Homo sapiens: one gene and its partner. The protein of the gene in region 2 purifies or fractionates together with the protein of the main gene of each other region. This does not show direct contact. Each region holds a gene or a part of one and is shown on either strand. Other genes may lie near its edges.

Evidence for each region.
Region 1: the proteins of CRYBA4 (region 2) and EML5 purify together in Homo sapiens (affinity purification with mass spectrometry; 2 studies listed by BioGRID and IntAct, with this or other methods). This does not show direct contact.

What each region holds. Positions count from the first base shown.
Region 1 is NC_000014.9:88,614,954-88,618,453, forward strand, and holds part of EML5 (echinoderm microtubule-associated protein-like 5), read right to left. Parts: exon of another isoform or gene 3,379-3,500; coding exon 3,275-3,378; exon of another isoform or gene 1,927-3,274; coding exon 1,773-1,926; coding exon of another isoform or gene 1,560-1,772; exon of another isoform or gene 1,290-1,559; coding exon 1,189-1,289; coding exon of another isoform or gene 1,092-1,188; exon of another isoform or gene 902-1,091; coding exon 865-901; 3' UTR 1-864. UniProt on the Homo sapiens protein: May modify the assembly dynamics of microtubules, such that microtubules are slightly longer, but more dynamic.
Region 2 is NC_000022.11:26,620,710-26,624,762, reverse strand, and holds the start of CRYBA4 (beta-crystallin A4), read right to left. Parts: upstream 2,801-4,053; 5' UTR 2,777-2,800; intron 2,179-2,776; coding exon of another isoform or gene 2,167-2,178; coding exon 2,128-2,166; intron 1,530-2,127; coding exon 1,411-1,529; intron 1-1,410. UniProt on the Homo sapiens protein: Crystallins are the dominant structural components of the vertebrate eye lens.

The sequences.
Region 1 (3,500 bases), on a different chromosome or scaffold from region 2:
AAACAAATGTGTATATATTAGACTACATTAAATATGCAATTCTTTCTTCCAGTTAAATACTGTTGCTCCCTAAAACCCTTACATTGTACACCATTGGGAATGATTGTTCATCATACTACTTTTCCATTAGTGAGGCTACAGTTATGTTTTAAATGTGCGATTACAGAGATGGCATCTGAACATAAACTGATGGCTCGAAAATGAAAATGGAAATGTAGCAGCCATATACTGCTAACTTTGGATCTGTTCCTGAATTCAAAACTACTAGGAGAAAAGTGTCCTTTATAAAAAAGGACCTTATTAATGCCTAAAAAACATCATATTCTCTAGGAAAGCTTGTGTCTGTTTCCTTAGGGAAAATGTTTGCCTTTTAAAAACTGTGATCCTTTAGGATGATCATGACTTTCCCTTTCCTTATGGAAATGCAAGAATAAAATATTTCATTAAACAATGAACCTTGAAAATAAAATATAAACATTAAGAAACCATTTTGCTAAAAAGATAATGAAAATTATCCAAATTGGGTTTTTGAGTTCTTCTGTAAAGAGTGCTCTACCCTAAATTTTCCCAGCAGGTCTGCCGAAATCACACACTTCCCAATACAGGGGGACTTGGCCTTTACCATCAAGTATTCGATCCTTCCTTGAAATGGCATTATCTGGCAGTGTATGGATTACGGATTATACCCAGTGCATATAGCAAATATTTTGAACAGATCAGTCTTTCACTATTTTGATGATTCTGGGCATTTCTCCCTGTTACAGTCTTGGGTTAGCACCACTTGACCATGCAGGGTTGGGTTTTGGTTTTTCTTCTCTGTAATTCTGGTCTCAAAGTTAATTTCTGTAGTCATCTCAGCATCTCTCAGTGAGGTGTATGTACACATTTCCAGACAAATAAGCTGCAATCAGAGAAGAAAATTGCAGGGAGTTAATTATGTTTTTAGATTTTCATAACAGTTTAATATTTTTCAGTTGTGCTTTCAGGTTACATGTGTAATATTTTTCCTCTTTAACTCCTTTTATTCTGTATTTGCATAAATATGAGATTCTGAAGAGCCATCTGGTTATACTACCTTCTACTAATGTTGACTAGCTGATTTCATAAACCAAAGCTGTAGGAGTTGTTGTATTAAGTCTCTTAACTAGTAACATAGTCTGCTCTTCATGGGCTGAGAAAGTTACTAACCTGCAGTCATCACCTCCAGCACTAACAACATGTCGATCACCACTGGTAAATCGAATATTTGTCACATGGGGCGAATGACCCAAGAACCTTTTGTGTTTTGCCTAAAAAACAATGACAGACAAGCTCAGGGCATTTGGTGCACACAGAAGTCAAAGGCTCTTATTAGGAACTATAATCTCTATGACAAGAGCTGTGGAGAGAGTAGGGAGTTAGCACCGCAGCCAGTGATTAGAATGCTTTTCAGCATGAGTAGTGGATCTGCAAAACCAGGCTGTGTGGGCAGTCAGATGTCTCCAGGTACTCTGACCATTTTTCTCTAAGGAAAAGCATTTGAAATTTGATAACTGATTATAGGTTTGGTGAAAAGCTAATTACAGCTTTTGTAGGATGGTTCCAAAGATGGTATTACTCGAGGGAGAGGATTTGTTTCTAATAGCTTTTATTTCAAAGTAAATAGATTTAGAAAGTTTGGGGAAAAATTTAGAAATTAGGACAAAACATTTTAAATATATGGGGAAAAGTGCTGATGATAAGACATCAAAATTAGGAGTAAACTGATAATAGTAAACAAAACACAAACTTACAAATTTTTCTGGACATGGGAAGTCAAATAACTTAACCATGCCAAAGTCATCTCCTGTAACAAGACTGATTCCTGAATGAGATACACAGGCACAGTTGACATCAGCTTTCTCAGCATGTCTGGACCAGATTCCCAAAACCTCATCTCCTAGAATACTAGAGGGAAGGAACAAAAGAAAACTCATCATGGCAAGTGCGGGCAGGTTGACTATATTCAAAAAGTTTCTTGGCAATTAATCTCTAAGTACCCTATCATGTTACTTAAAATACAGGAAGTAAATTATGGTAAGTTGTTTGGAGACCTGAATTTCATCAGGATATCAACTCCTGCCTTTTAAAAATGACATTTTATAATTTGAAGGGTTTCTAGATTAATCTTTTTAAGATTAAAGTAGTACTTTATGAAAACTGATAGAACTATTTTTTCTTTTTTTTTTTTTGAGACGGAGTTTTCGCTCTTGTTACCCAGGCTGGAGTGCAATGGCATGATCTCGGCTCACCGCAACCTCTGCCTCCTGGGTTCAAGCAATTCTCCTGCCTCAGCCTCCCGAGTAGCTGGGATCACAGGCATGCGCTAACATGCCCGGCTTATTTTGTATTTTTAGTAGAGACAGGGTTTCTCCATGTTGGTCAGGCTAGTCTCGAACTCCCGACCTCAGGTGATCACCCCCGCTCGGCCTCCCAAAGTGCTGGGATTACAGGCTGAGCCACCGCGCCTGACTGAAAACTGATAGAACTATTTTTCAAATTAAAAGTGCTACTTGGCTGGGTCCAGCAGCACATACCAGTAATCCCAACATTTTGGGAGGCTGAGGCAGGAGGACTGCTTGAGGCCAAGAGTTTGAGACCAGCCTGGGCAATATTGTGAGATCCCTATCTCTACAAAAATAAAAATGACTTATGACATAGGAATTAAAAAAATTTCAGAGATGGGGTCTTGCTATGTTGCCCAGGCTGGTATCAAAACTTCTAGGCTCAAGTGATCCTCCCACCTCGGCCTGCTACATCAGAGATTACAGGCATGAGCCACTATATGCCTGGCTGATACAGGAATTTGATGGCATTTTTCATTGGCCAAAAAAATGGATAGTCATGGTTACCTGTCATACAGCCAGGAAATTTGAACAAATTTGGAAGCTTTGACTTCTAATAGATTCAAGATAGCATTCCTTTAGATAGAGAATTAATAACAGTTGCTTAACAGCACCCAATACCTTTTTGCCAGTCATTAAATTTAGCATTAAGAAAAATATCAGGGTATCTTTAAAGTTAAAACTTTGATTTCCTTAAAAAAAAAACTTGATAAATCATGGAAACTGATAAAACATGGAAATATATTCAATAAAAAGGGGTCCCAACATGAACATACCATTTCAAAATATGGTAACAAAAACTTGAAACTCAATTACTATTCCTTATTGGAATGGCTCTAACAGTTCAGAAATAGGATTTTCTAACTGGCCTTCAAAGTCAGTTCTTGCCTTGTGAATATATAAGTATTTACCTAGTCCATGTAGCCCAAGTAATTCTGTCAATAGCGGCATGATCCATAAGATGTTTTCCTGAAGGCACTTCATAGACATGCCGTTTATAGCAGCCACTAGAGACCTTTTTCATCAGATTAAAATGGGACAAGAATTCCATTAGGTGAGAGACAAAATCCACAGGGGGTTTACAGAATACTAGCATATTGCTACTTGATTTACATGTCTAACATTATTAAGTATGCA
Region 2 (4,053 bases):
GGACAAGGGACACAGGAGGCTGCACCTTGCCTTTACTGTCTGTATAAGTAATAAACTGTCTGAATCTATCCAAGCTCATTGTCTGCTTACTGGCTGAGTCTGTCAGCCTGCTGGACATACCCCTAGAAAGCCTCTGTTCCCATCTGACCCCCATTCCCCACCTGCACAAATCAGAAGCTAAAAGAGTATTTACTAAAGCATGAGATGTGCAAAAATCACCCAAGATGACCTCAGGTGGCACTCACAGGTGTAGCATTAAGTGACTCCAAATCTCCTATCTACTTTCCAAACTTCTACAACCTTCTATCCAATATGGTAGCTACTGGCCACATCTCCTGTCTATCTACTTTCCAACTTTCTAGAACCTTCTATCCAATATGGTAGCTACTGGCCACATTGCCTTTCTAGCTACTTTCCAACCTTCTAGAACCTTCTATCCAATATGGAAGCTACTGGCCACATCTCCTTTCGATCTACTTTCCAAACTTCTAGAACTTTTATCCAGTATGGTAGCTACTGGCCACACCTCCTTTCTATTTACTTTCCTGCCTTCTAGAAACTTCTATCCAATATGGTAGCTACTGGCCACATCTTTCCAACTACTTTCCAAACTTCTAGAGCCTTCTATCCAATATGGTAGCTACTGGCCACATCTCCTTTCTACCTGCTTTCCAACCTTCTAGAACCTTCTATCTAATATGGTAGCCACTGGCCATATGTAGCTAATTAAATTTAAACTTAAATAAATTAAGATTAAACAAGATTCAGTTCTCTACTCATGCTGGCTACCTTTCAAATCCTCAATGGTCACATCTGGCCAGTGGCTCTGAAATGGATGGTGTAGATGTAGAACATCTCCATCATTGCAGACAGGTCCACTGAATGACACTGGTCTAGAAAGTCTTGGTGTGTTATTAGTGTGTCCTTAACACCTCTCTGTGTCTCACTAATCTCTCTCTCTCACTCTCTTTTTTGTTTTTTAATTTTTTTTTTTTTTACAAAAAATGATCAGGCCACATGCTTAGCAGCAAGACTATTTAGCTAAAAATTAATAGCATTAAAACATTATGTTTATTTTTACAGTTACCTTCTACTTTAGGCGGGTGATGTTGGCTTTCAATTTACGGCTGGGAGGGACATTTTTAGATCCAACACTGGATTCTAAGGATCTCCTGCAGAACTGCCTCATCCAGTGGGCAGGGTCTGTGTAAATGGCACCCTCCTACTGTTGGGCAGTGCGCAACCTGCATAATCTTACATGGCAGTCCTGCACACTCCTCAGTACTTCAGGAGGGCACAACAGTAAGAGCCTAGGGAGAGGGGACCTAGAATATCTAAAAGTCCTAGCACCCGTCTCTAGGTCCCTTCCTGTCCACCCTCTACCCCAACTCAGTGTCCCCCTAGACTCACGCTCCACTCAGCACTTTCAAAGATCGCACAGTCTCGAAGCCAAGCTCCAGCACGCTGGGGCACTCGGCCGTGAACTCGTGCCGCCGGCCCTGGAAGCCGTCCTCATCCCACACCACCATCTGTGCCAGGAAAAAAAAAAGGTGGAGATCCGCATCAGAGTCCCGTGAAGGGTGAGAGGTTGGGGGCTCGCCCCAGGATCTGGCAGGTAAAGCAGGGATTGCAAACTCAGATTCCTCCAGGAGCCAGGAAGGCAAGAGCAGTGATAAATGTGAGACACTAGACAGCACAGGTGCCAGGTAAATGGGTGGCCTCTTCCCAGTGCCACCAATGGTTGCCAAGTGGGAATGCAGGCCAGACCTTCCAATTTCTCAAGACAATCACTAGATCTGGACTTTTATGTGGTTCTTCCAGGCTTTTAAAGGCTGATGATAAATCCAAAAGCTTTATAAAACAAACAAACACACACAGAGATGGTCAAAGAAATCATGCCCAAAGACTGCAACCTCTGCCAAAGAGTGTAACAGGTCAACTTTGGGAACCAGAAGACCCAAATTCACATTCAACCTCCCTGTATGTGACATACAAGTCCCTTCTCAACTCTGAGCCTTGATTGCACCTCTGTGAAATAGGCATTTATAATGCCCCCCTCCTAGGATTCATGGGGACCTGAACCCTCCCCATACCCCCTGAACACCCCCTCCCCATGCCTCTTCCTACCTTCCAGGGTCCCGCTGACTTTGTGCATTGCAGGGTCATTGTGGCCCCTTCCTGCAGAAGAGAAGAACATTATAATCTTCCACCCTGACCCTCTGCTCTCCTCTTTATGCAGATGGCTGGCTTGGACCTGGTCAGGATCCACATAGGGAGTCCAGGAGTGACTGGGCTAGGGGCAATGCATGGCTTTGGCCTGTCCCTCTCCTGTCCTTTCCATCTGTCACCAATGCCATCTTCCATCCTATCCCCATCTCAAAACTCACCCTTGCTGGGTCTCATTGACTCTGAGCCCCACTCTGTATTCTCTTATCTGCTTGTTATGGGAAAATTTTTGTGGCTGCTGGTGGGTGGGTGCATCACCCCAGCGAGTGCTGAAATGCTCAGCATAAGAGAGCCCTTCCAAAGACAGCACCTAGCTCAAAGAGGTAGCTCTGATGGTGGAAATTTAGGCAATAGGGCTACAGGAATAATTTGTTTTTAAATGAGGGAAGCAGGTGCTGGTCTTGATGGTTGGGGCTCATCCTTGGTTAGGATGAGGATGGCATTCAGGATGACACAGTGACATCCCTAGGACTGGGGACCTGGGTTCCTCGCCTCCCAGAATGCTCACTCAGAACTCTGATCCCACCCCTCCTCCAAACCTGGGACTTACCGAGATAGGCCCAGGGAACATGTCAGATCTGAGACCAGCCGAGGTCGGGCTCTTATAGGCAGGGAGGGAAGAGGGGCCCCTGGGAGACAAAGCCCCGACTCAGCAACTGGGCCACAGAAACAAAAGCCAGCCCTGGCTGAAGAGCCAATGGCAAGCCGTCAGCAGCTCTGGCTTTAGCAGGGAGGGAAAGGACCAGATCACCACCCCCAGGGATCAGCCACGAAGAAGGAGAGAGGTGGAATATTGGCCCTCATCAGCCCCACAAGGTTCCTGACTAGAGCAGGAGAATGAGCACTAGATGAGGAGTCCAGAAGCATCCTTCCTAGCTATGTGAGCTCCAGCGAGTCATTTCCCCTCAATTTCTGCCTATAAAATGGGGCAGAAACAAACCATATCACAGAGTTGTTGTGAGGTTACATAACATGCCTGGTACAGAGTAAACATTCAGGAAATGCCTATTCCTTTCCTTCTCTCTTTCCCCTTTCTCTTCCAGTTGAAGCAATCCAGATAGGCTTGCCGTTAGAGGAGGCATTTGAACTAGACTCTGAAGGATGAGGAAGATATGTACAGAGTGAGATGGAAGGAGAGGCATTCTAAGAAAAAGTTCAGAGGTGGGAACTTGGGGCACATGTACAAGAAAGAGCTGGTAGCCCAATTGGCCTGGAGCTCAGGGGACCTGAAGGGAAGTGAGGCAGGAGAAGAGGGCTAGGCCAGGGCCTGCTGGGTCCACAAAGCCTGAAGATGAATCCGGATGGCACTGTGGGCAGCATAGAGGAGCTGTTAGTTGCAAACATGCTTTGCAAACTGTGGCACACTTGCCAAATATCCAGGACTTGTACAATTTGCTGTGTGCCTCTTGTCCCGAAACCCTGCCCTCTGAATTGGCGTATGAGGGACCTAAGAGGTCCCTCATACATACATACTTGTGTGTAAAATGGGTGTAACAAGCATAGGAAAACAGCATGACTGGAAACCAGATCATCTGAGATGAAATCCAGCCCTGCTTCTTTCTTACCATCCGTGTGACCTGGAGGACACCTGAGTCCTGCTCATGACCTGTAAAGTGGCCACACCAGTTTCCTTTTAAGAGGGTGAAATGCAGCTCTATCAAACGCATGACTTTAGGCTGGGCGCAATGGCTCACGCCTGTAATCTCAGCACTTTGGGAGGCCGAGGTGGGTGGATCACCTGAGGTCAGGAGTTCAAGACCAGGCTGGCCAACATGGTGAAACCCCGTCTCTACTAAAAACACAAAAATTAGCCGGGAGTAGCGCGGG